2 separate regions of the Homo sapiens genome follow, and region 2 is linked to region 1. Evidence: fine-mapped expression QTL. A gene starts in region 1. The other region holds a variant in brackets. All regions are shown on one strand. Distances are between the middles of the regions. Region 1 holds the start of ANO7 (anoctamin 7). Region 2 overlaps ANO7 (anoctamin 7).

Region 1 (15,371 bases):
TATGGAGACAGAGTCTCATACAAGTGAATGTTTTTAGTTCCATTTTGGAAAAATGCAAAGATAAGAATCTCTGAAAGTTACCAGTATCAAACACATTATTTACACATTATTTACAATGCACCATTGGTGGTGAGTAGAATTCCCCGTGTTAGGTTTACTAAGTCCTGGAGAAAACTGCTCTGAGATTGGCAGTGCTATGGAAAATTACAACATCTGCAATTTATAAAGATGGTCCGCCCATCTAGACTAATAATGACATTGGAAAATGCTGTGATGTGTGAGACAAGAAGCATCTGGTGTGTGACAAACACAAATACATCACATATCGAGAAAGAAGGAGGTGACACAGCTTGAAGACCTCCCACGCCAGAGCTGAAAGCCTGAGTCAACTGCCAGTGGTGTTTTGAATCATTTTTTAAATAGACTATGCTACAAGAAAATCTTACTTCTTCCAAACAGTGTGATATTGCTACTTTCATTAAATGAATGTCCTTTTTGTGTGTTTTGTGGTAGAAGTGGTTAAGGCAGTGGTGTTCAGTCTTTGGGCTTCCCTGGGCCACACTGGAAAAAAGAAGAATTGTCTTGGGCTACACATAAAATACTCTAACGATCGCTGGTGAGCTAAAAAAAAAAAAAAAAAAAAAAGTGAAAAAATCGCAAAAAAATCTCAAAATGTTTTTAAGCTTACAGATTTGCGTTGGGCCTCATTCAAAGCCATCCTAGGCCATTTACAGCCTGCAGGCCGTGGGTTGGACAAGCTTGGTTTAAGGCGTGTGTGTGCATCATTTTCGTGACTCTCCACTTTAAGGGGCTCTTTCTGTTAACTGACCAGTGACCGGCCAATCACAGGCCTGGCAGGTGGATGGCTTCCCCTGTAATTCTAGTGTTGCAGGCTCTGCACTGGCCACACAACCAGCGGGGCGGTGCGAGTGTAGTAACAGAGTAGCATTTAAGAAGGTACGCTCACGTCCCGTCCACATGGAGGCACTGGTCGGGACAGCAGCAGCAGGGCACCAGCCCTGGTGGTGCAGCTCCTCCCAGCAGGTGTCAGTCCCTCTTCAAGGGCTAAGCTCTAGGATTTGGAATTCTTGGTTTCCCAAGGCTGGTACGCACTAGTCCCACAAAAGGTTCTGTGAAAATAGGGTCCCTCAGGCCAGGCGCAGTGGCTCACGCCTGTAATCCCAGCACTTTGGGAGGCTGAGGCGGGTGGATCACTTGAGGTCAGGAGTTCAAGACCAGGCTGGCCAACGTGGTGAAACCCCATCTCTACAAAAATACAAAAATTAGCCGAGCATGATGGCGAGTGCCTGTAATCCCAGCTACTTGGGAGGCTGAGGTGGGAGAATCGCTTGAACCCAGGAGGCGGAAGTTGCAGTGAGCAGAGATTGCCCCATTGCACTCCAGCCTGGGCGACAGAGCGAGACTCCCTCTCAAAAAAAAGAAAATAGGGTTCCTCAAACAGGCAAACCTGTGAGATGCACGTTATATTCCTCTCTGGGAAGCCCCTGACACACGGTAAGTTACTAAAGACAGCCTGGCTGTGACAGTGGACCTGGTGCAAAACTAGCCCTCCTGCCACAGACAGATAGAAAAATATGAAACAACTCTATTCAGGCAGTGGACAGCAGGCAGCACGCACCTGCAGGCTCTGAGGAGGGAGTTCCAGCGCGAGCCCCGTGATCACCCCACTCCTTACCTGGGATGTTTCCCAAGCAGAACACAGTACTTCTGAGTGGAAGAGGCAGAGATCAACATCTCTGGCAGCTAGAGTGTGCCAGACAGGGCCCCAGAGAGAAGGGGAGCTGTGCAGAGCAGAGGTCCAGAAGTCCATGCAGGGACCCCCCAGTCGGACCACAGCTGTGGGCAGGGCAGTGGGCAGTGTGGGCCCCAGAGTAGAACGCCCCTGCTTGCCTTCCGTTCCACATGGACAGTTCCCTTCCTAACTTCCCTGTAAAAGGAGTCGAAGTCTGTCACCCTATAACGAGTGCCCCTGCCTGTGCCCATTGTAGGTTCACAGTCAAGTCCAGCTGCCTCTTCAGGAGCAGTGCCCGTGCTCTTGCCACCGCGGTTTGCCTGGCAGGCCCTGAGGCCGGGCAGCTCTGAACATGTGATTTCTACACACAGGGTGTTTGAAAGGGAGGGTCAGACCAACAGGGTTTGAAGCTGGACTGGCTCCCCTTGTTCTGGAGATGGCACCACTGCACTCCAGCCTGGGCGACAGAGCGAGACTCTGTCTCAAAAAAAAAAAAAATGCAAGAGAACTCTTCCTGCCAAAGGCAGGTCCCTCCAACTGGGCATGGCAGGGCCAAGATGGTAAAATGTAGCCTGCAACTCAGACCTCTGAATCCCACCTGCTCACGATTTGTGTCCCTGCACTTGGTATTGGGTGAAAGCAGCAGCTGGGACTTCCTTGTGGAGAGAGCCATAGAGGTAATTTACAGAAGAGTTGAGAGTTTTAAGTAGAGCGGCCTCTGTCTGCTGTGTCACAGTGATGGCGCAGAGTGCAGCCTTGGGAATGATGGCTGAGAACTGGTTTGTAGAAAGTGCAGCCCACCCTGCTTTGACACTTGCCTATGGACAAGTGTAGCAGGCAGGTGGCCAGAACTGCTTTGTCCTTCCTCTGCTGACCTGAATGTGGACTTGGCCCCGTCATAGTGACTGGCCCAGGGTTGGCTATGGACAGGTAACTTGTACTTGGGATGCAGCTGAAGGTGGCCAGGATGCACCAAGAGGCCATGGAAGGTCCCATGAGGTGCCAGGGAAGACCCACACCTGCTCGCCATCTTCTGAGTGGGAAGGAGGAGGGTGGCTAGTGGACCCCACCAGAGTCGAGGGCTGGGCTGTTTGGTTCTAAAGGCTTTTCTGCTGTGTGTGTCCCCAGATGAACGACAATCTCCTTGAGAGCTGGAGCGACCTCGACGAGCTGAAGGGAGCCAGGAGCCTGGAGACAGTGTACCTGGAGCGGAACCCCTTGCAGAAGGACCCCCAGTACCGGCGGAAGGTCATGCTCGCCCTCCCCTCCGTGCGGCAGATCGATGCCACGTTCGTCAGGTTCTGAGTCCTTCTTGGCTCCTCATGTGGTCCCTCTCCTCGGAAGAACTGCCCAGCCACGGGTTTTTAACCCACCTGTTGCTCCTGAGGTCGTCACTATATCAACAGTCACAAACCCAATGGCAATAAAGGCACTGACGATAGCTGGCGCGCGCGACGTCACACACCATTTTCAGATGCCGTTGCAATTAAATCTTGCCACACTGTCCTCCTGGGTGATTGTTGACAGTTATTGTAGCCACAGAGAGAACATAAGACACGTTGCGTTCATTCGCTAGAAATCCCTGTTTCCTTCTCTCAGAAGGCAGTCACAGTCCCTACCTGAGTCGTGTGAAACACAGGGCCTGAGAGTGCTTTACAGGCATTCACGTGCTGTCCGAGTGGCATTCGGGGGCTGGCCTAGCTGGCCCTAGTCCTGGTGTGCAGGGTTCAGGCAGTCTTGACCTGCAACAACCGAGGTTTTTTAGTCTTTTAACCCAGCCATTTTCAATTTTTTAAAAATTAGGTAAGTTAAAAAAGCTGGGTAAAAGCTGACTCAGCCCTGTGTGCTTGTGTTCCTTAGAGCTCTCCTTCAAAGAGCGCCGGGCAGGGCTGACTGTTTTCACGTGTGCCCGTCAGTTCTCGCCACATCCCTTGCCTGTGGGTGAAAGCTCAGGTGTGGGGAGGGTGTCCTGTGTCCCACACGGTGCTGTGCTGCTGCCAGAATACGAGTCCCATTGAGCCTCTCCAAAGACGGCCTCCAAGGATCTGAACTCTTGGCCACTGGTATAGTGGCCTCCTGTTCTCACCCCATTGTTATTTTGGCTTTTTTAATATAAAATGTACATTGACAGACACCCGAAGTCTGGATTTAATGCTACCAGGGCATCGTCACCTCCCAGGGTCTCAGATTTCTCCTCCTGCAGAATGAGGGCCACATCATGTGGTCACCAAGGTCCCTTCTGCCTCCGGGACTCTAGACTCTAGAACCGTCTACTTGAGGAACCAGGACTCTAGAACCGTACTGTCCAATGTGGGCGAGGCTGCAGTGAGCCATGATTGTACCCACTCCAGCCTGGGTGACAGAGGGAGACCCTGTCTCAAGTTTTAAAAGGCTCCAAATTAATACCCAGCCATCTGTTCTTTAACAGACATTTTTACAAACATACAAAAAATGTGGAAGTGATGAGGAAAGGTATGCTAAATCCAGCACAATCCTAATCAAAATGCCATTTGATTTTTTTTTTTTTTAAGGAGTCATTCTCTGTCACCCAGGCTGGAGTGCAATGGCGCAATCTCAGCTCACTGCAGCCACCACCTCCCAGGTTCAAGCGATTCTCCTGCCTCACCCTCCCTAGTAGCTGGGATTACAGGCACCCGCCACCACACCCAGCTGATTTTTGTATTTTTAGTAGAGATGGGGTTTTGCCATGTTGCCGGGCTGGTCCCAAACTCCTGACCTCAGGTGATTCGCCCACCTCAGCCTCCCAAAATGCCGGAATTACAGGGGTGAGCCACCGCACCCAGCCACCATTTGATTTTTTGAGACACATTAAATTCTAAAATTTAATTTTTTTTCCTTTTTTTTCTGAGACAGAGTCTCGCTCTGTCGCTAGGCTGGAGTGCAGTGGCGCGATCTGTGCTCACTGCAAACTCCGCGTCCCGGGCTCAAGCGATTCTCCCGCCTCAGCCTCCTGAGTAGGTAGGACTACAGGCACATGCCACCACACCCAGCTAATTTTTATATTTTTAGAAGAGACGGGGTTTCACCATGTTGGCCAGGATGGTCTTGATCTCTTGACCTCATGATCCACCTGCCTCTGCCTCCCAAAGTGCTGGGATTACAGGAGTGAGCCACCGTGCCCGGCTTTTTCTTTTTCCTTTTTTGGCGAACAGGGTCTTGCTATATTGCCCAGGCAAGTCTCAAACTCCTAGGCTCAAGCTGTCCTCCCACCTCTGCCTTCCTAAAAGCTGGGATTATAGGCATGAGCTACCGTGCCCGACAAATTCTAAAATGTATATGGAAGAAAAAAGTCAACATTGTGATTCAATTCATTTTGAAAAAGAGCTGGGAGAGACGCTTTCCTACCAGATCCTGAGTGCTGCAAACCCACAGTGAGAGTGTGGGGGGAGGCCTGACCTAACAGCACCAAGACAGGGACACCTCAGCAGGAACCCAGGGGACTCGGGGACTGGGAAAAGTGTCCGGGGGTCGGGGAGGGGTGGACAGTGTCCTCATGATGTTGGCAGAGTGCACTATGTGGAAAAATGAACACTGCCCCTCCCTGGCATCACACACAGGATAGGCTCCAGAGCAATTGGTGATTCATGGGCGGTGGTGAAATAGGAAATCAGTAGAAAATAATGTGGGAGACTGGGCATGGTGGCTCGTGCCTGTAATCGTAGCACTTTCGGAGGTCAAGGCGAGTGGATTGCTTGACCTCAGGAGTTCAAAACCAGCCTGGGTAACACGGTGAAAACCCATCTCTACTTTAAAAAAACACAAAACTTAGCCGGGCGTGGTGGCAGCCACCTGTAGTCCCAGCTACTCGGGAGGCTAAGGTGGCAGAATCGCTTGAACCCGGGAGGCAGAGGTTGCAGTGAACTGAGATCTCGCCACTAGCACTCCAGCCTGGGCGACAGAGTGAGACCCTGTCTCACACCCCCAAAAAAGAAAAAAGAATGTGGGAAGGCGGATATGTGAGCTAGCAGTAGAGAAAACTCCCCAAGGCCGGGTGCGGTGGCTCATGCCTGTAATCCCAGCACTTTGGGAGGCCGAGGTGGGCAGATCACAAGGTCAGGAGTTCGAGACCAGCCTGGCCAACATAGTGAAACCCCGTCTCTACTAAAAATACAAAAAATTAGCCGGGCATGGTGGCAGGCACCTGTAATCCCAGCTACTCGAGGAGGCTGAAGCAAGAGAATTGCTTGAACCCAGGAGGTGGAGGTTGCAGTGAGCTGAGATTGCGCCATTGCACCCCAGCCTGGCCAACAGAGCAAGACTCTATCTCGAAAAAAAAACTCCACAAACACAACTGTAAGACAAGATTTTGATGGGTTTATTTACATAAAATTTTACATAGAACAAAAATAATGAATAATACCTGAATAATGGCAACAGTAGATTAAGAGAAGGCGTTTGCAGCTTTTAAAACTGGCAAGGCTTACCATTTAGAACTCCCACACATCAAATAAAGGAGACAGGAATCCTGACGGAAACGCAGGCCAAGGGCCAGAGTGGGCAACTCAGACACCAGGGGCCAGTGGCCTGTGTGGAGCCGCCGCTCACAGGAAGCTGGGCTGCTGGCTGCACCTGCAGACAGGAAGGTTAGAAAGCGGGCAGTGCAGGCATCCAAGAGTCTGTCCCCTGCGACCCAGCCACCGTCCGTCCAGCAGGGCTCCCATGTGGCTGGGGCGCAGTGCCAGGGTCCTCATGGAGGGAGCCCTGCACGCGCCTCCAGCCTCAGAAGGAGCCTCAGAAAGAGGCTGAACTTCAGTGTGGGCTCTTCACCACCACTTCCACCTCCACTAACTACACCCTAAGTATGTCCATAAATGTTACAGCCAGCCGGGCACGGTGGCTCACGCCTGGAATCCCAGCACTTTGGGAGGCCGAGGCGGGCGGATCACGAGGTCAGGAGATCAAGACCATCCTGGCTAACAAGGTGAAACCCCGTCTCTACTAAAAATATAAAAAATTAGCCGGGCGTGGTGGCGGGCGCCTGTAGTCCCAGCTACTCCGGAGGCTGAGCCAGGAGAATGGCATGAACCCGGGAGGCAGAGCTTGCAGTGAGCCGAGATGGCGCCATTGCACTCCAGCCTGGGCGACAGAGCGAGACTCCGTCTCAAAAAAAAAAATGTTACAGCCAAAGAAAGATGGTGCAGCAGATTCTGGGCCTGGGCTCTTCCCAAGGCCTGGAACCTGGCGGGCCCCCTGTGCTGGTTGCGGCTTTTCTCCCTCCCTCCCTTCCTTCCTTTCCCTCAGAAGTAACACAACTTGAAAAAACCACCCACCCAAACAGAGTTGTATGAAGTAAAAATGGAAAGACACTCCTCAGGGCCGAACCCCCTTTAGGTGTTGTGCGTGCACTGTCGCTGAAAGGGCTCCCACTGGGGTGTGGTCACCTCCAGCAGCCGGCCCTGAAGCTCTTGAGTAGACAGCCCTGAGGCCACCAGAGCCACTTTGTCACCAAGAGCAGAGAGCCAGGAGCTCCTGGGAGGTGGCATGTCTTCCTGGGAGGGTCCTTGGCCAATGACTGAGCAGAGTAAGAGCCTACAGTTGCATCCAGGTGAGGAAACGCTTCGTCTTGCCTCCCCTGCAGAGTGCCCATGGCAGGCTGAGGCCACCCTCCACAGGTCTTGGGGAGATGGTGCCCCGCTCATCCTCCCTCCCCTCCTGCCTCCCGACTCCTTTCCTGGTTTCTGGAGCACTTCCCCAGTCCAGCCCTCGTCCAGGGATCCACCTCAGGCGCCTGCAGGCTGAGCTTGGCCAAGCAGAGACCTCTCATGCAGATGCCCTGAGGCCCAGGGCCCCAAGGTCCTGCCGCCCAGGCTCTGCTGGTGCTGACAGGGAACCCGGCCTGCAGGGCCTTCCCGCTGTTCCGAGGCACAACACAGGTCCAAGAACAGGGCCCCTTGGGAGGTGCCAAGCACAGAGGGGCATAGGTATAAGGGAAAGCTGCAGCCAGGATGAGGGTCCGCCTGGAGGGATTTCAACAGGCAGAAGGGGGCACCTGGAACAGCAAGCTGAGCTTGGGGCTCCCCAGTGCAGTTGTGCATGGAGGGCGAGGAGCACGGGTGGTAGGTTCTCAGACACTGCCAGGCACCAAGGAGGAAAGGGGGAGGGGGAGGGAGAGGGGAAGAGGAGGGGCGGGGAGAAAGGATAGGAGGAGAAGGAGGAGGAGAGGGAGAAGTGGGGGGAGGGGGAGAAACAGGAGGAGGGGAGTGGGGAGAAAGGAGGAGAAGGAAGAGGAGAGGGAGAAGTGGGGGGGAGGGGGAGAAACGATAGGAGGAGGGGGAGTGGGGAGAAAGAGGAGGAGGAGGAGGAGTTGGGGGGAGAAATGATAGGAGGAGAGGGAGAGGGGAGAACGGATAGGAGGAGAAGGAGAGGGAGGAGTAGGGGGGAGAAACAATAGGAGGAGAAGGAGGAGAGGGAAGGTGGGGAGAAAGGATAGGAGGAGGGGGAGAAAGGAGGAGGGGGAGGAGGGCTAGGAGGAGAAAGAGGAGGGCTAGGAGGAGAATGAGGACGAGGAGGAGGGCGGAAAGGATGGGAGGAAGGCTAGGACCCCTCCTGTCCTTTTGCAGATGGGGCCCTGAGCATGGGATGTGCCTGAGGTCACCCCTCAGGCATTAGCAGAGCCAGCAGTGTGATCTGGGTCTCCCAATCTCCCCAGCCCCCGGGTGAAACCCTGGCCCACCACTCAGCACATGCTACGTAACCTCAAGGAGCCTCAGTTTCCCCCCACATAAACAGAGCTTACGAGGTCTGCCTGGCAAGGCTTCCAGCAGAGGTGGCACTTGTGGCTGTTCCTGTGGAATCCCACCTCCTCGAGACCCTCCAAGGCAGCAACTATGACAGCTGATGCCAGCCCTGAAATCTCTAAGCAAATAAGGTTCCCAGGAGGACGGCAGCATTTGCATGCGGGTGTGTGAAAGCCCAGCCAAGTGGGCTGCCTCTGTCTGCAGCTCTGAGCCCCACACCCCCTATTTAAACAAAGATAGATCCTGCTCCAGGAGCCGGGAAGCCTTGCCCTGGCCAGCTGTGCTGGGCACCTCCCCTGCCTGCTTCCTGGCCCACTTGCAGGCAAGGTGAGGGCATGCGAATGGCTGCCACTGCCTGGGCGGGGCTCCAAGGGCCACCCCTCCCCACCCTCTGTCCCGCAGTGAGGACGGGACTCTACTGCCGAGACCAGGCTCACGCTGAGAGGTGGGCCATGACCTCCGAGACCTCTTCCGGAAGCCACTGTGCCAGGTGGGGACCCAGCCTAGACGTGTGGGCCACAGGGAGAAGGTGGAGCGTTGGACTCTAGGGAGGCAGGGCGGCACCCCAGCCCACCGGGACTTTCACACACCCTGGCCTGTGGGGAGGCAGTGCCAGGGCCCGCCCTGGTCCCCAAAGCCCCTTGGGGCACGAGGAGGGACACACACTCAGTGCGGCTCTGGACGGGGTACACCCAGCTGGGGTTGGCTTCCTGCCTGCCCAGGGGCTCCCCCATGGAGCAGGTCCCTTCGTTGGGGTGGGGGGCATCCCCATTCTTTCTGCAGAGAGCTCTGAGGAGGGGCCCGCCTGCCCACCACAGAAGGATGGGGGCATGAGGGGCTGCTGGGTGGCCGAAACTCCTCGGGGACTTTCCTCCAGGAACACCCCACAGTCCGTAGTGAGGCTCCCAGCCTGGGGCCGGGGCCGAGTCCTAACACTGAGACCTGGCTCGGGCTTCAGGGTTAGGCAGGTGCAGGCGGCCCAGGCTCAGTCTCTGTCCCTCTGGGCCTCCGCTAATGTGAAGTGAAGGGTAGAACTAGAAGGCTGCCCCTCCGACCTCCTGCGGCGCCTCCATGGTCACACCCTCCGGTCATCGTCGCAGCTCCAAATGCCAGCCCCAGCTCGAACCCTCTCCTTCCAGGGCCACAGATGTCGTGCTCCTGGCCCCGTTTTGCCAGCCCAAGACTAGGAGCCACGGCACCTGTCCTCCCACAGAGAGAGACCCCCGGGGCGAAGGTGCGGGAGGAAGCTGGGACCCCCAAGAGTTGTGAGGCCGGGCTCCATCAGGCCCGCCTTGCTGGGGAGCTCAGGGCCTATGGGTCCTGGCACTGGGTCCTCAGGCCATGAGCGAAGGCAGGCGACTTGAGGGGTTTCCTGTCCCTGGCTCACATGGCTCCACCCTACGGATAAGAGAGGGAGAGGTGTCTGTACTCCAGGCCCACCTTTCTGGGCCTTCTCAGGCTCCACTGAGTACCCAGGCAGAGTGGACGGCATTCAGGGCTGGGGGACACGGGCACTCACTGGATGGACAGACAGACGCCTGCTGTGCCAGGCCTGCCAGACGCTCCCGCCCCGGCACTGGTTTCTTCCTGGAGCTCGTGGCTGGCTAGGGGGTTCTCCATGTGCTCATGGCCAGGAGAGTCTGCCGAGCCAGCCCAGCCCCATTCTACTCCGAGTCGAGTCTGTAAAGTGAGCTCACTGCAGGCAGTGTGGTGGCCCCAGGAACGGGTCTCACCCATCCCCTCTCTGACCCCCATCCCCACCCGGCCTTGCTGGGTGCAGGAGCAGGATGCTGCGGCGACGGGCCCAGGAAGAGGACAGCACCGTCCTGATCGATGTGAGCCCCCCTGAGGCAGAGAAGAGGGGCTCTTACGGGAGCACAGCCCACGCCTCGGAGGTAACAGCACCCAGGAGACTGTGGTGCGACTTGAGAGGTCCTCCCCTGCCTGGGTCTATGCCCCCACCCTGGGCCCAGAGCCTCTGGGGGTGGATGGGCATCACCGTGTTTCTCCTGCATCCCCCGGCAACCCCCAAGCCCTCGCCACCCAGTCCTCAACACACACAGTCAGATCACCGCTCTCCTGGCCTGGCCTGGCTGTGGAGAACCGAGCAGAACCCACTGATGTTCAGACAGGAGCTCCAGGAGGGTAAGGGGGGCCTGGCCAGGCAAAGGCAAGACCAGGGCGGGGCCCTCCCTGTGGTGTCAGTCCCAGTCAGTGCAGGGCCACAGCAGCACCCAGGGCCATCTGTAGGGCTCCACCTTGTCACTAGGAGGCCATGGATGCGCTGTGAGCCTGTGGGGAGAGGCTGGGTCCCGGGCCTTCAAGGCCATGCGGGAGGCCCTGGCCGTGGAGGGCCCTCTTCCTGGTTCTCCTGGGCCACACGTCTGCCCCAGCAGCCTGCGGGTGGACACGGGACCCCTTCCTGCCGCCCCAAGCACAGCTGAGATGAGCCTCCAGGGAGGGCACAGGGCCTCTCACCTCAAGCATCCAGACACTCTCGGTCGCCATGGCCAACTCTGTCCTCAGGGCCCCTTTGGGAGCAGTCCGGCTCCCCTCTGCCCCTGGAGGCCAGCAAGGCAGGCACCCCTGGTCCTGGCCATGCTTCCCGCCAACCTGACCCTTGCCATGGGCCTGGCCCAAGGAGGAGGGGAGCCGGCTGGAGGCCCAGGGCTGGTGGTGCCCTCTGGCCCTGCCTGCCGCTCCCCGCGCCTGCGCATCCTGTGCCCCCACACAGCAGAGGGGCTTCCCCCTCCACCCCCTACCCACCCGCCGAACATTCTTCTGTGGTCCTGAGTGTTCTGGGGCAGGGCGGGGACGGGTTGGAGGCGAGGACGGCTTCAGGGTGGGGCGGGGTGGGTGTAGTTGTCGAGGGCAGATGCTGATGCTGATATGCTTCTCCATCCTCCATGCCTTCCAGCCAGGTGGACAGCAAGCGGCCGCCTGCAGAGCTGGGAGTCCTGCCAAGCCCCGGATCGGTGAGCCCCTCCCAGCACCTGTACCACACCCGTGTTGGTCCTGAGGGTGGGGACACCACGGGGGTGCCCCCAGGGGCAGCAGGCTGGGGTAGCCTCCTCAGTAGCCACTCTGGGGCCAGTTGCTTGGGGATGGGGCACTGGGGTGAGGGCCTCGGGGTGAGCAAACCACAGTGGGAAGAACAGCAGGAAAGGGGGCTCCCTACTGATGGGGTGGGGCCGGAAGGGCTCTGGAGAGTGGACAGGGCTGCCCCCTCCCTCCTGCTCCAGTCCCCTCCACCATCCTCCAGCTGTTCAGCCACAACTCAGGTCATTTCTGACTCTTATCTCTTGCACTCCACCCCTTTTGTACCTTCAAAATCTCTTTGATCCACCCCCAACCCACTGCCTCTGTCTGCCCGGAGCTACCACCGACTCCAGGGGATTGCACCAGCACCAGCCGGGCTCCCAGCACCCACCCCGCCCACCCTGCTGTCCCCTCAGCACCAGAGAGACCCTAACCTCCTCCCACTAGGATGGCTACTACTTAAAAAAAATCACAAGTGTTGATGAGGATGAGCGGAAACTGGCTCACTTGTGCATTGCTGGAGGGAGTGTAAAATGGTACAGCTGCTAAGGAAAACAGCAGTTCCTCAGAGAATTCAGCACAGAGTTCCCGTAAAAGCCAGTATGTCTTCCCTGGGTGAGCGCCCACGAGCACGGGATGGGGGCCCCGGGGAGATATCTGTACACCCGCAATGTCATTCACTGTAGCTGGAAGGCGTGCATTCGTCTGCTGGGACTGTCATAAGAAGTACCACAGCCTGGGCCAGGCACAGTGGCTCATGCCTGTAATCCCAGCACTTTGGGAGGCCAAGGCGGGTGGATCACCTGAGGTCGGGAGTTCGAGACCAGCCTGATCAACATGGAGAAACTAAAAATACAAAATTAGCCAGGCGTGGTGGCACATGCCTGTAATTCCAGCTACTCGGGAGGCTGAGGCAGGAGAATCGCTTGAACCCAAAAGGCGGAGGTAGCGGTGAACCGAGGTCGCGCCATTGCACTCCAGCCTGGGCAGCAAGAGCAAAACTCCATCTCCAAGAAAAAAAAAAGTACCACGGCCTGCGGGGCTTAGATGGCAGAACTTTCTTTTCTCACAGTCTTGGGGCTGAAGCCCGAGGTGAGGGTGAGGCAGGGCTGGTGGCTTAGAGGCCTCTCTTTTGGCTTTTGCAGACGCGCCTTCTCCCTGTGTCCTCACACCCCCGGGGTCTCTTCCTCCTATAAGGACACGAGTTGTCATGGATTAGGGCACACCCTAATAGCCATCACGTGTCTTTAATGACCTAATCTCCAAATACAGTTTCATTCTGAGGACTGTGGGGTGGGGCTTTGACATACAAATTTTGGAGAAACTTAGTTCAGCCCATATCAAGGTGGAAGCCATCCACGTGTCCACCTACAGATGACTAGATAAGCAAAATGTGGTATTTACATCCAACGGATTTATTCAGCCTTAAAAAGGCAGAAAAGTCTGACACAGGCTGCAACGGGGATGCGCCTTGTGGACAGTATGCTACGTGAAATCAGCCAGTCACAAAAGGACAAATGTGATTCCACTTATATGAGGTCCCCAGAGAGTCAAATTCATAGAGAGAGAAGGTAGAATGGTGGGTGCCAGGGGCTGGGGACGGGGAGGGGGAGTTAGTGCTTAATGGGCGTAGGGATTCAGTGGAGATGGATGGTGGTCATGGCTGCACAAGAATGTCAATGTCCTTAGTACCAATGACCTGTACACTTAAATGTGGTTAAGATGGTTTTTTGTTTGGTTGGTTGGTTTTTTGTTTTTTGTTTTTTGTGTTTTTTTTGAGATGGAGTCTCACTCTCACCCAGGCTGGAATGCAGTGGCACAATCTCGGCTCACTGCAACCTCTGCCTCCCTTCGCACCATTCTCCTGCCTCAGCCTCCCGAGTAGCTGGGACTACAGGTGCGCCCCACCACGCCCGGTTAATTTTTGTGTTTGTAGTAGAGACGGGGTTTCGCCATGTTGGTTGGGCAGGTCTTGAACTCCTGACCTCAGGTGATCCGCCCGCCTTGGCCTCCAAAAGTGCTGGGATTATAAGTGTGAGCCGCCACGCCCAGCCTAAGATGGTTTTTTAAAACGTAGACAGCCCTTATTTTCTCAAAATCCTCCACACGCCCCCTCTGTGTGTGTGAGGCTTAAGGCATCCTCGCAGCTGCCTGTGCAGCCACAGGCCTACCCCTCCCTCCCAGCCCCACCAGGCCCTCAGACCACATCTCCTGCTACCAGAAGCTCCCCACCCTTCATTCCAAGACAGCACCTCCCAAGATACAATCGTTTTAAACTTTCATATAAAGGTAGAATATATTCTATCCTCTGAGAAAATCATGCCTTTTATCAATATTAATTGTGCCTAGAAAATTGTCTATCCATAATCATGCTTTGTGTCTTAAAATCCATTTGGCCTGGTATTGTTAAAGTTTTGTCAGTTTTGTGTGTTCTGTTTTGTGTCAAAGGGATTAACGTATGCCTGATGTATTATTTCCCATATTTAGAAAGTGAGTCTTTCAATCCTCAAATATGGTATTTTCTCCATTTATTTAGGTCTACTTTAATTTCTCTTTTCTTTCTTTCTTTTTTTCTTTTTGAGACAGAGTTTCGCTCTTGTTGCCCATCTGGAATGCAAGGGCACGATCTTGGCTCACTGCAACCTCCACCTCCCAGGTTCAAGTGATCTCTGGCCTCAGCCTCCCAAGTAGCTGGGATTACAGGCATGTGCCACCACGCCTGGCTAATTTTGTATTTTTAGTAGAGACAGGGTTTCGCCATGTTGGCCAGGCTGGTCTCGAACTCCTGACTTCAAGTGATCTGCCTGCCTCGGCCTCCCAAAGTGCTGGGATTACAGGCGTGAGCCACCGTACCTGGCCTTTAATTTTTTTTTTTTTTTTTTTTGCTGCTTTCGTGAGATCTTGCACATCTTTTAGTAGATGTATTCCAAATAGCATTACTTGGAAAATTTCACTGCCTATGTGTCATAGGTATATAGAAATTATTTATTTCCTTTTTTTTTTTTTTTTGAGATGGAGTCTCGCTCTGTTGCCCTGTTGCCCAGGCTGGAGTGCAGTGGCGTGATCTCAGCTCACTGCAAGCTCCGTCTCCTGGGTTCACACCATTCTCCCGCCTCAGCCTCCTGAGTAGCTGGGACTACAGGTGCCGGCCACCACGCCCAGCTAATTTTGTTTTTGTATTTTTAGTAGATATGGGGTTTCACCGTGTTAGCCAGGATGGTCTTGATCTCCTGACCTCGTGATCCACCTGCCTCAGCCTCCCAAATTGCTGGGATGACAGGCGTGAGCCACCAAACCCAGCCACAATAAGATATTGTAAAAGAGCGAGACAGAATGCCCACATTCACATAACTTTTACTGCAGCATTTTGTTATAATTATTCTGTTTTATTATTAGTTATTGTTCATCTCTTACTTTACCTAATTCATAAATTAACCTTCACCATAGGAATGTATATCATAGGTATGTACGTATTATAGGTATGTATAGGGAAAGACAGTATATATAGGTTTGTTACTCTGCACAGTTTCAGGCATCCACCGGGTTCTTGGATAGATCCCCTGCAGTTAAGGGGACTCCGTTGTCCTTACTCCTCGGGTGTGGCCTGCGAGTCTCTGCTGGATGACCAGCGTGTTCCAGCTGGAGCTCAGATTCCCCAGCACTGTGTATCCTCTGGAATCTTTGTCAGCCATGGGCCTCCAGCAGCTGCCTCTGTGTATGAATAGCTTGGTGCTCCAAGGGCCTGGGGGACTTTCTCACAGACCCGGTGGCTCCGTCTTCTTCCCAAGCTCCAGCCCCCTTAGCAGCACCTAATTCAAATG
Region 2 (15,371 bases), 27 kb after region 1:
CTGACAGGTGGACAGGAGTGCTCCCAGGCTGACAGGTGGACAGGAGTGCTCCCAGGCTGACACAGGTGGTCAGGAGTGCTCCCAGTCTGACAGGTGGACAGGAGTGCTCCCAGGCTGACACAGGTGGACAGGAGTGCTCCCAGCCTGACACAGGTGGGCAGGAGTGCTCCCAGCCTGACACAGGTGGACAGGAGTGCTCCAAGGCTGACACAGGTGGACAGGAGTGTTCCCAGTCTGACAAGTGGACAGGAGTGCTCCCAGGCTGACAGGTGGACAGGAGTGCTCCCAGTCTGACAGGTGGACAGGAGTGCTCCCAGGCTGACAGGTGGACAGGAGTGCTCCCAGGCTGACAGGTGGGCAGGAGTGCTCCCAGCCAGACACAGGTGGGCAGGAGTGCTACCAGGCTGACACAGGTGGACAGGAGTGCTCCCAGGCTGACATAGGTGGACAGGAGTGCTCCCAGCCTGACAGGTGGACAGGAGTGCTCCCAGGCTGACACAGGTGGACAGGAGTGCTCCCAGCCTGACACAGGTGGGCAGGAGTGCTCCCAGCCTGACACAGGTGGACAGGAGTGCTCCAAGGCTGACAGGTGGACAGGAGTGCTCCCAGGTTGACACAAGTGGACAGGAGTGCTCCCAGTCTGACAGGTGGACAGGAGTGCTCCCAGGCTGACAGGTGGGCAGGAATGCTCCCAGCCTGACACAGGTGGGCAGGAGTGCTCCCAGGCTGACACAGGTGGACAGGAGTGCTCCCAGGCTGACAGGTGGACAGGAGTGCTCCCAGGCTGACACAGGTAGACAGGAGTGCTCCCAGTCTGACAGGTGGACAGGAGTGCTCCCAGGCTGACAGGTGGACAGGAGTGCTCCCAGGCTGACACAGGTGGTCAGGAGTGCTCCCAGTCTGACAGGTGGACAGGAGTGCTCCCAGGCTGACACAGGTGGACAGGAGTGTTCCAAGGCTGACAGATGGGCAGGAGTGCTCCCATGCTAATTTTATTGGCACTCTTGTTTATTATAATAATGTAAGCTTTCTTATAATATTAATAAATGGGCTTGTGTTTTAGTTTATCATGGAACTGAAATTCAGAAACTTAACTCAGACATTGTCATGGCATATATTTTAAAACAACTATTTTTTTTAAGAAATGCTGGGCCTGGCAAAGGCAGTGGTGGACAGAGAGGACAAGGGAGAGAGAGGACAAGGGAGGCGCCTGGCTGGGAGGAGCAAGCAGCCCCCCTCCCCCATTAGCTCCCACCCCTCCGCTCCATGCCTTGCAGGCAGGAACTGTGTGGCAGCAAGGACAGCTTCGAGATGTGCCCACTTTGCCTCGACTGCCCTTTCTGGCTGCTCTCCAGCGCCTGTGCCCTGGCCCAGGTACGAGAAGAGGTGGGTGGGGTAAGGGATTTGAGAGTCGGGGATGAGGAGGGCAGCTCCCCTTGTCCTGGTCCTGACTCTGCCTGCACCAGCCCCTGTCCTGCTTGTCACCAGCTAAAGGCAGAACGCTCCATGAGCTCCTTAACCTTTGTTCTCTTGCCTGGAACTGGGGTTACACCCGGCACACACCTCCCAGCACTTGGCAGAGTGGCCCATGTTAGTGCTTCCCACTTGAGGACACCCCACACCAGGACTCTAGCTCTGGCACTCTGGGGGCACCTGGCCCTTGGCTCCAAGGCGGACAAACCCTGGAGACCCCAGGGCACAGGCAAAACCAAAGGTTTTGAGCAGAATTCCCAACTTACAAGACCTGGGCGGGAGGCTCCTGCAGTCTCTGAGCCCCACTGTCCCCCCTCCCGCCTGGCATGCTTCCTGGGTCTGTCCACCTTCCCAGGGGCCTCAGGGCCTCGCTTGTACCCCACATGCACTGGACCCAGAGCCCTTGGCACTACTGGTGGGCCAGACGCCGTTTGACCTCACTTCTGGGAATCCACTTGGATGTTTCCTAGGACCACAAATGGGGACTTAAAACAGCAGAAGCTTATTCTCACAGGCCCGGGGCCAGAGTCCAGAATCAAGCTGTTGGCAGGCTTGGCCACTTCTGGGGACTCAGCCCCAGGCCTCTCTCCTGGTTTCTGGTGCTGCTGGCAGTCCTTGGTCCTCCCTGGCTTGTGGCCGCCTCATTCCAATCTCTGCTTCCATCTCCACCTGGCCTTCCCTTCTGTGTCTGCGTGCTGGTTCCTCTTCTCCCCTCTTGTAAGGGTTTGTCCAGAGTACTCTCATCTGGAGATCCTTACCTTACATCTACAAAGGCCCTTATTCAAATAAGATTACATTCTGAGGTTCCCAACGAACATATCTTTTGGGGGCCAGAATTCAACTCACTACAGGTCATCCTCTGGTTCCAAAACTTCATGTCCATCCCACGTGCAAAATACACTCACCTCATCCCAGCATCCTCCAAAGTCTCAACCTCTTACAGCATTAACTCTAGGTCCAAAACCTCATGAAAATATCAGCTCAGAAAGTCCCAAATCGCATCCTCAAAGTCAGGTGTGGGTGAGACCTGGGTGTGAGCCGTCCTGAGGCAAAATTCCTCTCCCTCTGTGGGTCTGTGCTTCCAAAACACAGTCAGGGGGCTGGGCACGGTGGCTCACGCCTGTAATCCCAGCACTTTGGGAGGCCAAGGCGGGTGGATCACAAGGTCAGAAGATCGAGACCATCCTGGCTAACACGGTGAAACCTCGTCTCTACTAAAAATACAAAAATTTAGCCGGGCGTGGTGGCGGGCGCCTGTAGTCCCAGCTACTTGGGAGGCTGAGGCAGGAGAATGGCGTGAACCCGGGAGGCGAAGCGTGCAGTGAGCCGAGATCGCGCCACTGCACTCCAGCCTGGGTGACAGAGCCAGACTCCGTCTCAAGCAAACAAACAAAAAATACACAGTCGGGGGATGTGTGTGGGATGCACACTCCCATTCCAGGAGGAAGGAACACTGGAAGGAACAAGGGGCCTCCAGTCCCAAGCAAGTCTGGACGCCCCCGCTCCCTGCCACAGGCCGGCCGGCTGTTCGACCACGGCGGCACCGTGTTCTTCAGCTTGTTCATGGCACTGTGGGCCGTGCTGCTGCTGGAGTACTGGAAGCGGAAGAGCGCCACGCTGGCCTACCGCTGGGACTGCTCTGACTACGAGGACACTGAGGTGAGCCACCCCCGCTGGACCACGGTCACACCCGGCGAGGGCCGCCACTGAGCACCGGCTCCCTTCCAGGAGAGGCCTCGGCCCCAGTTTGCCGCCTCAGCCCCCATGACAGCCCCGAACCCCATCACGGGTGAGGACGAGCCCTACTTCCCTGAGAGGAGCCGCGCGCGCCGCATGCTGGCCGGCTCTGTGGTGATCGTGGTGATGGTATGCGGTCCCCCTGCCCTCCGCTCACGCCTCCATCCTCCTGCACCATGTGGGGTGGTTTTGTCCCCCATCTCACCTTGGTGCCGTGGCCAGATGCCTCCTCTGGGCACAGAACCCTCACTCCCCGCAGAGAGGCCCCCATGTGCCCGGGCTCGGCCGTGGGGTCCCGGCTGAGAGCAGGTGTGAGTCATACGGAGGGCCTGGGAGGGTCTCCCCGTGGGTGCGGGCATGGGGCATTTTTCAAGCAAGGGGGTTGGTTTCAAGGAAAAGAGAGGCGGGCACCCCAGCAGGGCCATTCACTGCACCCTGTCTTGCCTTCCAGCCAAAGGGGCTTCCTAATAGGACCTCTCACTCCCCTGCCAAGATGTCAGGAATCCCCAATTCCTGGGATGGGATGGCTCTCCAACACTCACAGTGGCTGCCTTGACACCCAGATGTGGCCCAGCCTCTAACTCTAACCCCACCCCACCTCTGCCTGAGCAACTCATCAGGAAGGACATAGCCTGGGAGCACAGCCGGGGCTGGAGGCAGGGGCCTTCCTAGAGGTGGCAGTGCTGGGGCCAGCAGTGGACTAGAAGAGCTGTCGGGGGCCATGGCCTGAGGGTGCTGGGGTGCCCAAGACACCGTGAAGGGTCTCACGGGCCTCCCTGCCCCCGCAGGTGGCCGTGGTGGTCATGTGCCTCGTGTCTATCATCCTGTACCGTGCCATCATGGCCATCGTGGTGTCCAGGTCGGGCAACACCCTTCTCGCAGCCTGGGTGAGCCTCTGCTGCCTGCCTCGGGGGGCCCTGAGCGGCCCCTCATCCGGCTCTGACGGCCTGTCTCCCGTTAGGCCTCTCGCATCGCCAGCCTCACGGGGTCTGTAGTGAACCTCGTCTTCATCCTCATCCTCTCCAAGATCTATGTATCCCTGGCCCACGTCCTGACACGATGGGGTGAGTGGGCTGAGGCCGGCCAGGCACTGACCAGGGGCCCACCCTGCCGGCCGCCAGCCAGAACGTGACTTTCTCACTCACTGACACACATGGCCCTCATTTCTATTTCTTTCTTCTTTTTTCTTTTGAGACAGGATCTCACTCTGTTGCCCAAGCTGGAGTGCACTGGCACGATCATGGCTCACTGTAGCCTTGACCTCCCAGGCTCAAGGGATCCTCCTGCCTCAGCCTCCTCAGTACCTGGACCACTGTGCCCAGCTGAAATTTTTTTTTTTTTTGATAGAGACAGGGGTCTCACTGTGTGGCTCAGGCTGGTCTCGAGCTCCTGGCCTCAAGGGATCCTCCTGCCTAGGCCTCTCAAAGTGCTGGGATTACAGGCATGAGCCACAGCACCTGGTTTTCTTTCTCTTATTTTTTGTTTTTGGCACCCCAGGTGGGACACAAACAATCCCTGGGTTAGGAAGCCAGTGCTCCCTATTTCTAAATGTGGTACAGATTGGAGTTGTCTGAGCCTCCCCAGAGGCCCCCTTAAAAGAGCAGTGAGCAGGGCCTTCCTGGAGATAAAAGACCCTGGGGGCACTCCAGCACCCAAAGAGTTCTCACCCCTCCACAGGGCCCCCCTCCAGGCTGCAAGGTCCCCCAGGTGGGAGATGTCCCTCTAGGATAGGGCCGCTGAGCCTCTGTTGGGTGGTGTGGGGTATCGGCTGCTGGGCTGGGCAGCCACCTCTCAGTTCTTCCCTCCCCCTTCCTCTCCCATCGGTCTTTTTCTCTGTCTCATTTCCTGAGGACAAACACTTACGACCAACCTATTCATTCCATAAGCTGCTGCCTCTCACTAGCCCTGCTCTAGCCCTGGGGGTGAATAGTCTTGAACAAAAGCTGGCAGCCCCACCCTGGAGCCCAGGTTCTAGGAGAGGGGACAGAACTGGCTGCCTGCACAGCTACAGAGAATGGGAGAGGGCTTAAGTGCTGAGGAGGAAGTGCCTCCTGGTGGGTGGCCAGGGGAAGGTGGGTGTCAGGGAAAGACCTTTGCAGGTGGCAGGTGTCTCAGGGAGAGGTTCCTGGTTCTGGATGGCCAAGGGTAGGGCTCTGAGGGGAGCCACCCATTTGTTTCTGCAACTGTGGGGTTGCTGTGGGGTGTTGAGCCTCCCTCTTTCCCTCCTGTAACCTTCAGCCTTTGATGCTCCTGCCTCCGGCACCTGCACCGGAGCCCAGTCCGCTGCGCAGCCTTGGCACCGAGCCTCTATTCTGTTTCTCTGACCCATCCCCTGACCACTCACCCGTGTGCACCACATTCATTATTAGTGTTGGGATATAGGGTATTATCAATTTTCCCAACTCCTGTTAATCAACATGTTTTTGGGTGACTTCGGAAATGTCACACTTTGTCTCCTTCTTTTAAATATCTGGATGATATGGCCTTTTCCTCACCCGTGTGTGGCAAGGTGGTCCTAGGAGAGGGGGCCCCTAGTTGGATGCTGGTGACTCCCCCAGGGACTGAGCCCAGGCTCTCCATGCCACAGAAATGCACCGCACCCAGACCAAGTTCGAGGACGCCTTCACCCTCAAGGTGTTCATCTTCCAGTTCGTCAACTTCTACTCCTCACCCGTCTACATTGCCTTCTTCAAGGGCAGGTTGGTGGGCACCTCTCCCTCTGGCCACAGCTTGTCCCGGCTTAGTTCTGCTCATGTTTCCCGCTGCCTGGGTACCAGGCGTCATCCAGCCGTGCTCAGGCAGGTGGAGGACGGAACCGGAGACCCAGGCAGGGGACAGGGGCCCATGCCTCCTGGCACCTCTGAGCAAACAGGGGCTGCCCACCTCTTGGTCCCTACCCAGCTCGGGGGTCCACAGGAGGCCCAGCTCACAACCGGGACTCTACGCCACAGTTCGTGCTTCCTCCAGGGCAGGTGCAGCAGCTCTGCTGAGGCCTCCAGAGCCCAGGGAAGTGGGAGGAGACAGGAAGGATCCCATCAAGGCTCATGATCTTGACTTTCTCCTAGGTTTGTGGGATACCCAGGCAACTACCACACCTTGTTTGGAGTCCGCAATGAGGAGGTGAGTGTGCCTGAGGCCCGGGACTGGGGGATGAGCTGTGTGCTTCCTCTCACTTCCATTCTTCCATTCGAGCTTTGATTTGCAGCAATTCCTCCCACCACCGGCTATTTCCATCGCCCAGCCAGGGCCAGCTGTGCAGCTGACCACTCAGGGCTCCCAGCCTCTCTTCACCACTTATTCTGACCCCCGATATGCCCCATTCAGAACCACACCAAAACACTCCAGGCCGGGCACAGTGGCTCACGCCTGTAATCTCAGCACTTAGGGAGGCTGAGGGAGGAGGATCGCTTAAGCCCAAGAGTACGAGACCAGCTTGGACAACATAGTGAGTCCTCATCGCCACAAAAATTAATAAAAAAGCAAACCAAAAACCCTACCCCACCCCAGCTGTCCCAGCCCGTATTACTCTTTCCCCATTTTAACCCAATTCACACCTGAGAAAAGTGTGAGCCATTACGGTGGGCGCAGAGCCTCTGGCACACAGGCCCGCAGAGGCTGGCCTCCTCATGGCACACGGCCCGCAGGGGCTGGCCTCCTCATGGCACACAGGCCCGCAGGGGCTGGCCTCCTCATGGCACACGGCCCGCAGGGGCTGGCCTCCTCATGGCACACAGGGGTCGCAGGGGCTGGCCTCCTCACAGGCTTGGCGTGCTGCCGCCATGGCTGTCAGGGATCTCCCTGTGGCCAGCTGTCCTCTCCCCATCAGCACAGTGGGCTCTGCCTGTGACTGTATCTCTAAGAGCCTTAGCTACTCCGTATCTCTGAGAGCCAGGCGTGAACCTGGTTTTTCAGAAAGCAAATGGAAGTTCACCTGGTGGAGGATGAAGCGTTGTTGTCACGGGGGTCCCTGCAAAGCAGACCCCAAGACAGAGATTCTGGTGCAAGTAACTGACGTGTGCATCACCCCAGAAGTAGTCTCCACTGTGCCACAGCCCCTCCAAGACACCGTAGAGAAGCCCTCAAAACTGTTCCCGACGCACAGCCCCTCCTGGGTGAGGGCCAGGCATGTCCCAGCAGCTGGGGTCGCAGGCAGCAGGGTGGGTGCATCTGGAGCCATCCACAGGTGGCCTCTGGGCTGGGCTGGGACCTAAGTGGACCCCTGCTGAGTGACCCCTGGCCTGAAAGACCTCTTCTCCTTTTGGAAGAGGAGGAGGAGGAGAGAAACTTCGCATGGGGTCTGGGCCATGAGCCAGCCCAACTGCAAAGTGGCTGCCCCCAAAGGGGTGGTGTCCATTTCATGTGAGAGGGGAAAGGGAAGGCTGGGGATGGAGTGGGGAGTGTGGCTGCGGGTGCCACAACGGACCAGCCAGAGGGCTCTCAATTGTTAAGTGGGAAAAGTTCCCAACTCAAACTGGCTTAAACGAAAAAGGGAGTTTTCGGCCAGGCGTGGTGGCTCATGCCTGTAATCCCAGCACTTTGGGAGGCCAAGGCAGGTGGATCATGAGGTCAGGAGTTCGAGAATAGCCTGGCCAATATGGTGAAATCCCGTCTCTACTAAAAATGCAAAAATTGGCCAGGCGTGATGGCACGCACCTGTAGTCTCAGCTACTCGGGAGGCTGAGGCAGAAGAATTGCTTGAACCCAGGAGGTGGAGGCTGCAGGGAGTTTTCTTGGCTCCTGTACTGAAAACGCTCAGGGCTACGCGGGCTTAGGTATGAATGATCCAGGTGTTAAAAATGCTGCACTGCTATTCCCAGCATTGCCTGTGTTCTCAGAAAGATTATCCCCATCTGGAGGGAAGGTGCCCTGCAGTGCGGCCGACACTCTCGGACTTAGCACCCCTTGCAAGGCACGTGTTCCCAGGAACTCCACCTCCCACTGGCTCGAACTGGGTCACCGATTGGTGGGGCCTGCCTCGTGGGTCTGTCTTGAAGCCAGAGGCTACAGTCAGCCCCATGTAACCCCTTGTGGGTCTCCAAAGGAAAACTGGGGTGCCATTAGGTACATATAGCAGTGCCCCCTGCAGCTTTCCAATGCAGTCTTCCAGCTGGACCTGGGGGCTCCTGTGAGGTCGGGAGGGAGTGTTATGGTGGGAGCATCTCTGCAACCCTCCAGGTGCCCAAGGCATGTCAGGAGGGAGGTGGGGGCCGGGATGAGGGCCAGCTTTGAGACAAGAAGGGATGCGTGGGTGAGTGGCTGGTCCCCCTCTCCCAGCTAACCTGAGCCCTGCTGCCGTAGTGCGCGGCTGGAGGCTGCCTGATCGAGCTGGCACAGGAGCTCCTGGTCATCATGGTGGGCAAGCAGGTCATCAACAACATGCAGGAGGTCCTCATCCCGTGAGTCCCCCACTCCTCCCTGGGTGGCATCCAAGGACCGAGGGACCCCAGAGCACCTGGCAGTAGCAGCCTCCAGCCCGGCCCTAGCTGGGAGAAGAGGTGAAGGGAAGGCACCTTGCCTGGGGAGGGGGAGGGGGAGTGTGCCCGGCCGTCTGCCCCGGGCTCTGGGCTGCCCGCCCTGCAGCTGCCCTGTGGCTGGCTGAGGTCTTCTGGGTTGTAGTTGTGGGAGACGCTACCCCTGGGACCAGCTTTGGCTGGGGAGGGGGTCTGGGCTCCTGGACCCAAGGCTGGGGTGATGGCTCTGTCCGTTCAGAGATGCTGCGGCTGGGCCAGAGTATTCCTTGGCATCCCCAGGCCCCAACGCAGCACAAGAGGGAGGAGGAAAAGGAGGTCCCAGGGTTGATCCTCAGACACACGTCTGCCTCAGATGCCCCTGCCAGGGACACCCTGACCACAAGGCTCCCATAGCCAGAGTCCTTCAAAGAGGCTGCCCAGGGCCTCGCCTCCCGCTCAAGGCCAGACTGACCTGAACGCCCTCCCAGCGCCCCCTGAACACCTGATCTGCCCCCAGAAGGCAGCTCCCAAATCAGCACTGACATTTCTGGGCCACCAGGAATAGCAGTTGGGAGATGGTGGCCATGCCACATCCCGAGAGATGGCCCTGCCTCTTGGAACTATTGGTGCTGTGAAACCACAAGACCATAAGGTGCAGGGTGGAGCTCTGTGCCTGGCAGGAGCAGGGCACGGATGAGTGACAGTGTGATAAGGCAACATGCACACATGCCCCTGTGTAGGACGAACCCAACACGTGGGCCTCCACATCTGCTTTCCCTGGGACACCACAGTCGTCCTCGTCCACTCCCTCCCAACCTTGGCAGAGCTCTTGGCACTGCTTTGCAATTCCGGGAGGAGCCCATTACCCCTAAAGCCTTAAGGAACAATGCGGGGGGCTGGGCGGGTGGACTGCCCTCCCACATCTGACCAACAGACACAGACGCTTTCACTGAGTCCGATCTGCAAAGCTGTTGGCTCTCACTGCGTCCACCCCTCAGCCCCAGACCCCATCCCTCCCTGCTGCCCTTCAATTGCAAAGCAACAGGCTTGTCCCGGCCACATCTCCCCCAAGGACTATAGCAGCCACTGAGACCCATGTTGGATCAAAGGCCATTTTCCTGTATTCCCGTCCCCAGGAAGCTAAAGGGCTGGTGGCAGAAGTTCCGGCTTCGCTCCAAGAAGAGGAAGGCGGGAGCTTCTGCAGGGGCTAGCCAGGGGCCCTGGGAGGACGACTATGAGCTTGTGCCCTGTGAGGGTCTGTTTGACGAGTACCTGGAAATGGGTAGGAGCCCGTTAGCAGCTGCGGCAATGGCTGGCGCCGTGGGCAGGGATGGGTGGCCACTCTGCTCAAGGGCCTCCCAGCCTGACATTCCTGTGTCTGCATCTGCCCTGAAATGTGCTGTGGGGGTGGGGTGGGAACAGAGGGTCGGGCCTGTGGAGAATCCAGAAAGGAATTCTTTTCCCCTGAGAGTGCCCAAGAGGGTTGGCTGAGGACAGAGGGGCACCGGCACGGGGAGGAGGCCCCCGCGGCCGTTGCAGAGCTCCCCTGGGGTCCCTGGACCTAGAAAGCATGGGCCAGAGCAAGGGAAGAATTAGGAGAGCAGGCCCTGGGGGCTGACAGAAGTCCTCCAAGGGTGAAGCCACAGTGGGAGGCAGCGGCCTGGAGAGCCAATGTTCCCAGAAATCTCAATGCCCACGCTATTTGCAGACCTACCACTGTCACCTTACCAGGTGGTGGCCAGTGCCAGGGGCTCACTGCCTGCACGGGTGGTGCACTCTGGAGGGTGGGTCTGTATCACCTGTGCCGTCCCTGCAGTGCAGGGTCTGACTCTGAGCTGACAAAAGGGAGAAGGAATCATCAGGCAGTTTGTTTGTTTGTTTTTGTTTTGTTTTTTGAGACGGAGTCTCCCTCTGTCGCCCAGGCTGGAGTGCAGTGGCGCCATCTCGGCTCACTCCAACCTCCACCTCCCAGGTTCAAGCAATTCTCCTGCCTCAGCCTCCCGAGTAGCTGGGATTACAGGCGCCCACCACCACGCCCGGCTAATTTTGTATTTTTAGTAGAGGCGGAGTTTCACCGTGTTGGCCAGGCTGGTCTCGAACTCCTGACCTCAGGTGATCCACCTGCCTCAGCCTCCCAAAGTGCTGGGGATTACAGGCGTGAGAAACTGTGCCCGGCAGGCAGCTCTTAACCTAGCAAGCGGGCATGTGAGCCGGCAGGCCCCGGAGCTCCCCAGCGTAGCCGCGGCATCTGTGGAAAGGGAGCAGGCCAGTTCCCAGGGCGAGGAGTGGACGCCCTGACCCTCCTCCACTGAACCCTGGACCCCAATGATCTCACTAGTAATTCTCGGCGAAGACCCAGAAGCCCCTTCCAAAGAGCCCTCTCCTAACAGCTCCCCTGTGGGGTGACTGGAGAAGCTGGTTGTAAAATCAGGAGCAGGTTTCTGCCCCAACGCCTGCCCTGAGTTAGTTCCTGAGCTCACCGAGCCGGAGAAGGCCCGTGACCAGCCAGAAGCACGGAGCGCAGGGCAGGACAGCCGGCCTGAGGCCGGTCAGGAGAGGCGGCCCTGGCGCTGCGCGGTCCAGGACGAGGGAGACCAGGAGGTGGGGGCGGAATGAGCCGCGATGGGGTGGCGGCACCACGTGGACTGGCCGGTCCTCCGCGGGGGGCGCGTTCCGAGGGCTGAGGGCGGACGGTGGCGGAGAGCCCGGCCGTGACCCCCTCCCCGCAGTGCTGCAGTTCGGCTTCGTCACCATCTTCGTGGCCGCCTGTCCGCTCGCGCCGCTCTTCGCCCTGCTCAACAACTGGGTGGAG[A/C]TCCGCTTGGACGCGCGCAAGTTCGTCTGCGAGTACCGGCGCCCGGTGGCCGAGCGCGCCCAGGACATCGGCATCTGGTTCCACATCCTGGCGGGCCTCACGCACCTGGCGGTCATCAGCAACGTGAGGCCCGGGCGGGAGCGCGGGGCGGGGCGGGGGCGCGCAGGGGCGGGGGCGGGGGGGGCAGCGGGGGCGCGCAGGGGCGGGCCGGGGGCAGCGGGGGCGCGCAGGGGCGGGGCTGGGGGCATCGGGGGCTCGTAGGGGCGGGGCGGGGGGGCGGCGGGGGCGGGCAGGGGCGGGGGGCAGCGGGGGCGCGCAGGGGCGGGGCGGGGGGGGCAGCGGGGGCGCGCAGGGGCGGAGCGGGGGCGCGCAGGGGCGGGGCGGGGGGGCAGCGGGGGCGCGCAGGGGCGGAGCGGGGGCGCGCAGGGGCGGAGCGGGGGCCGCCTCGCGCTGACCCCTCCGGCGCCCAGGCCTTCCTCCTGGCCTTCTCGTCCGACTTCCTGCCGCGCGCCTACTACCGGTGGACCCGCGCCCACGACCTGCGCGGCTTCCTCAACTTCACGCTGGCGCGAGCCCCGTCCTCCTTCGCCGCCGCGCACAACCGCACGTGCAGGTGAGCCCCGCGCCAGGTGGAGGGGGCCGCGGGCGCACGAGGACGAGGCGGAGCGGGGCTCGGGTGGGGTGGGGGTGCGGCGGTGGGGAGCCGGGAGGGGCGGGCGCCGCCGGGCAAGGCCGGGGGAGGGGGGGAGCTGGGGGCGCCGTGGGCAGGGGCTGGGGGGAGGTTCCCCGCGGTAAGGGACGGAGCTTTGCGGGGCTGGAGGGCAAATCGTGGATTCTAGGTGAATTGCTAGTTGGTCATAGTGTAGCAGGACGAGTCGCAGACAGAACTCCTCAGACACCGGATTAAAGAAGGAAGAGGTTTTTTTATTCGGCCGGGGGCGTCGGCAGACTCGTGTCTTCAGAGCGGAGCTCGCCGAAAAAGAAATTCTTAGCCCTTTGAAGGGCTTACAACTCTAAGGGTCTACGTGAAAGAGTCATAATAGATCAAGTAAGCGTGAGGAACGTGACTGTGGGCTACATACATCAGCTAACGGTACAAAAAGTTTTACGGTGCTTTCTCATACAGCGTCTGGAATTCACACATAACACCAGTAGTTTTGGTCAGGGGTTAATATTATTGTTATTTTAACCGCCAGGGCCAGGTGGTGGCGCCAAGGTCATCTAGCTATTTATCTTCTGTTTCTTTCCAGCTTTTTGCTTTCTTCCTTTTCTCCTGTCTTATAAACTAGGGAAAAGGGGAGGTTGGGGAGAAACTGGGAAGGACAACAGGAGAAGTGGTGGCCTCATACCATAATAGAACCTGCAGAGCAGGTAGATGTACTTCACCCGCAGTTGTGGAGACTTCCTTTGTGATCTGGTTACAATGAAGTTTTGCATGTGTTTCAATAAACTTGAAAAGCATCATAGTCTCCTAATGTTGGAGCAAATCTCAGCAGTAAAATTACGAAACCATAGGGTTATCAGTCTTTTCATATCGGTCTCTCTCAGGTTTTGCTTTTGCTCTATGTATTTTGAGCTTTTTAGTTGTGTACGAATTCATACTTGTGATCTCTTCATAATGGATACTTACTTTTTCCTTTTATTCTTTATCTTTTTTATTCCTCCTCTCCTGACTTCTGGTGGATGGGTAAAAGTGTTCTGGTTGTTTTTTTTATTATTATTCTTTTGCTTATTTGGAACCGATGGCATATATTTCTATTATTTTAGGGGTTACTCATATGTTTAGCATACATTCTTTTCTTTTTTCTTTTTTTTTAGAGACTGGGTCTTGCTCTGTATCCCATTCTAGAATGCACTGCCACAATTATAGCTCACTGCACCCTAGACTTCCTGGGCTCAAGCAATCCTCCCACCTCAGCTTCCCGAGAAGCCAGAACTACAGGCGTGTGCCACCAGGCCTGGCTTTTTTTTTTTTTTTTTTTCTTTAAAGAGATGGGGTCTTACTATGTTATGTTACTCAGGCTAGTCTCAAACTCCTGGCCTCAAGCAATGCCCTGGCCTCCCAAAGCACTGGGATTACAGGCACAAGCCACCACACCCGGCTAGCACACGTTCTAAACTATATATTATCCTAACAAAGCCTGAATGAACTCAGTTTTGTTTCCTCTCTCTGTGTATGACTAGGATCTTCACATGCCTTACCACCTAGTAAGCAGCAATCTCTCCATCTTATTATTGTTACATGGAGTTTTAGTTTTACTGTTAAAAACACACATGAAAAAACATTTTCAGTCATCTGTTCATCAAATTTATTTGTGTATTTTGTTAACTTCTGTGGTTACAGTAATTTCTTATGTATTGCCTTCTCCGAGTCTTTTTTTTCTTGCTGAAGTATATCCTTTAGTAATTCTTTCAGTAAAGGTATGTGGTTAGTGGGGTCTTCACATGCAGAAATGCATACACATATGTATGCATAGAAATATGTATCACGCATATGTATGATAATATTGCCATGCATTTTTGTCCTTCAAATAGCGGATATAAAAGTATAGGTCGAGTTATTTTCTCTCAGTTCTTTGGAAATATTATTCTTTTGTGACTTGGCTTTTCTGATTGGAAGCATTCATAGCATTTAAGAATTTTTCTGGCTGGGCATGGTACCTCATGCTTATAATCCCAGCACTTTGGGAGGCCGAGGCAGGTGGATCATTTGAGGTCAGGAGTTCGAGACCAGCCTGACCAACATGGTGAAACTCCATCCCTGTTAAAAATACAAAAAAAGGCTGCACACAGTGGCTCATGCCTATGTTCCCAGCACTTTGGGAGGCCAAGACCATCCTGGTTAACACCGTGAAACCCCATCTCTACTAAAAATACAAAAATTAGCTGGGCGTGGTGCTGGACGCCTGTAGTCCCAGCTACTCGGGAGGCTGAGGCGGGAGAATGGCGTGAATCCAGGAGGCAGAGCTTTCAGTGAGCCGAGATTGTGCCACTGCACTCCAGCCTGGGCAACAGAGCAAGGCTCCGTCTCAGAAAAACAAGAACAACAAACAAAACCTGGCTGTGGCAGTTCACGCCTGTAATCTCAGCTGCTCTGGAGGCTGGGGCAGGAGGATCATTTCAACTCGGGAGGCGGAGGTTGCAGTGAGCCGAGATGGCGCCACTGCACTCCAGCCTGGGCAACAGAATGAGACGCTGTCTCAGGAAAAAAAAAAGAAAAAAAGAAAAAAGCACTACCTTTACAGATGCCTGCTGGTGAAACAAATCAAAGAAAATGATATTTTTATTTTTTTATTTATTTTATTTTATTATTATTTTTTTGAGACGGAGTCTTGCTCTGTTGCCCAGGCTGGAGTGCAATGGCGCGATCTTGGCTCACTGCACGCAACCTCCGCCTCCCGGGTTCAAGCGATTCTCCTGCCTCAGCCTCACAAGTAGCTGGGATTACAGGCGCCCACCACCATGCCCAGCTAATTTTTGTATATTTAGTAGAGATGAGGTTTCACCATGTGGGCAAAGCTGGTCTTGAACTCCTGACCTCAGGTGATCCGCCTGCCTCGGCCTCCCAAAGTGCTGGGATTACAGGCCTGAGCCACCTTTCACGCCCGTCCTATTCTCTTTTTTCTTTGGGACAGAGTCTTGCTCTGTCACCCAGGCTGGAGTACAGTGGTGTGATCTGGGCTCACTGCAACCCCCGCCTCCTGGGTTCTTGTGCATCAGCCTGCCAAGTAGCTGGGATTACAGGCGTGCGCTACCACACCCAGATGATTTTTTTTTTTTTGTATTTTTAGTAGAGACAAAGGTTTCACCATGTTGGCCAGGCTGGTCTCAAACTCCGAACCTCAGGTATCTGCCCACTTCAGCCTCCCAAAGTGTTGAGCCACTGCACTTGGCCTAGG

Evidence for each region.
Region 2: its variant is fine-mapped to the expression of ANO7 in tibial nerve (GTEx, PIP 0.96).

Annotation. Positions count from the first base shown.
Region 1 is chr2:241,179,766-241,195,136 of GRCh38, forward strand. It overlaps ANO7 (anoctamin 7), which reads left to right and starts at 8,912. Exons shown (of 25, transcript NM_001370694.2): 1 at 8,912-9,001; 2 at 10,292-10,406; 3 at 11,429-11,486. The coding sequence starts at 10,299. LOC105373971 (a long non-coding RNA gene) reads right to left here and starts at 8,657. Exons shown (of 3, transcript XR_924064.3): 1 at 8,511-8,657; 2 at 6,199-6,343. It overlaps PPP1R7 (protein phosphatase 1 regulatory subunit 7), which reads left to right. Exons shown (of 10, transcript NM_002712.3): 10 at 2,882-3,887. The coding sequence ends at 3,058. RefSeq lists enhancers at 6,464-6,986, 8,182-8,866, 8,867-9,550, 10,484-10,984, 10,985-11,485.
Region 2 is chr2:241,206,297-241,221,667 of GRCh38, forward strand. It overlaps ANO7 (anoctamin 7), which reads left to right. Exons shown (of 25, transcript NM_001370694.2): 11 at 1,278-1,374; 12 at 2,989-3,132; 13 at 3,202-3,339; 14 at 3,999-4,097; 15 at 4,172-4,274; 16 at 5,798-5,909; 17 at 6,276-6,330; 18 at 8,509-8,606; 19 at 9,797-9,942; 20 at 11,390-11,595; 21 at 11,943-12,085. Among named protein-coding and RNA genes, the nearest start is that of ANO7, 25 kb to the left of the region's middle. RefSeq lists enhancers at 6,804-7,363, 10,002-10,533, 12,641-12,740 and a silencer at 11,168-11,297. The variant A/C (reference allele first, on the strand shown) is at 11,473.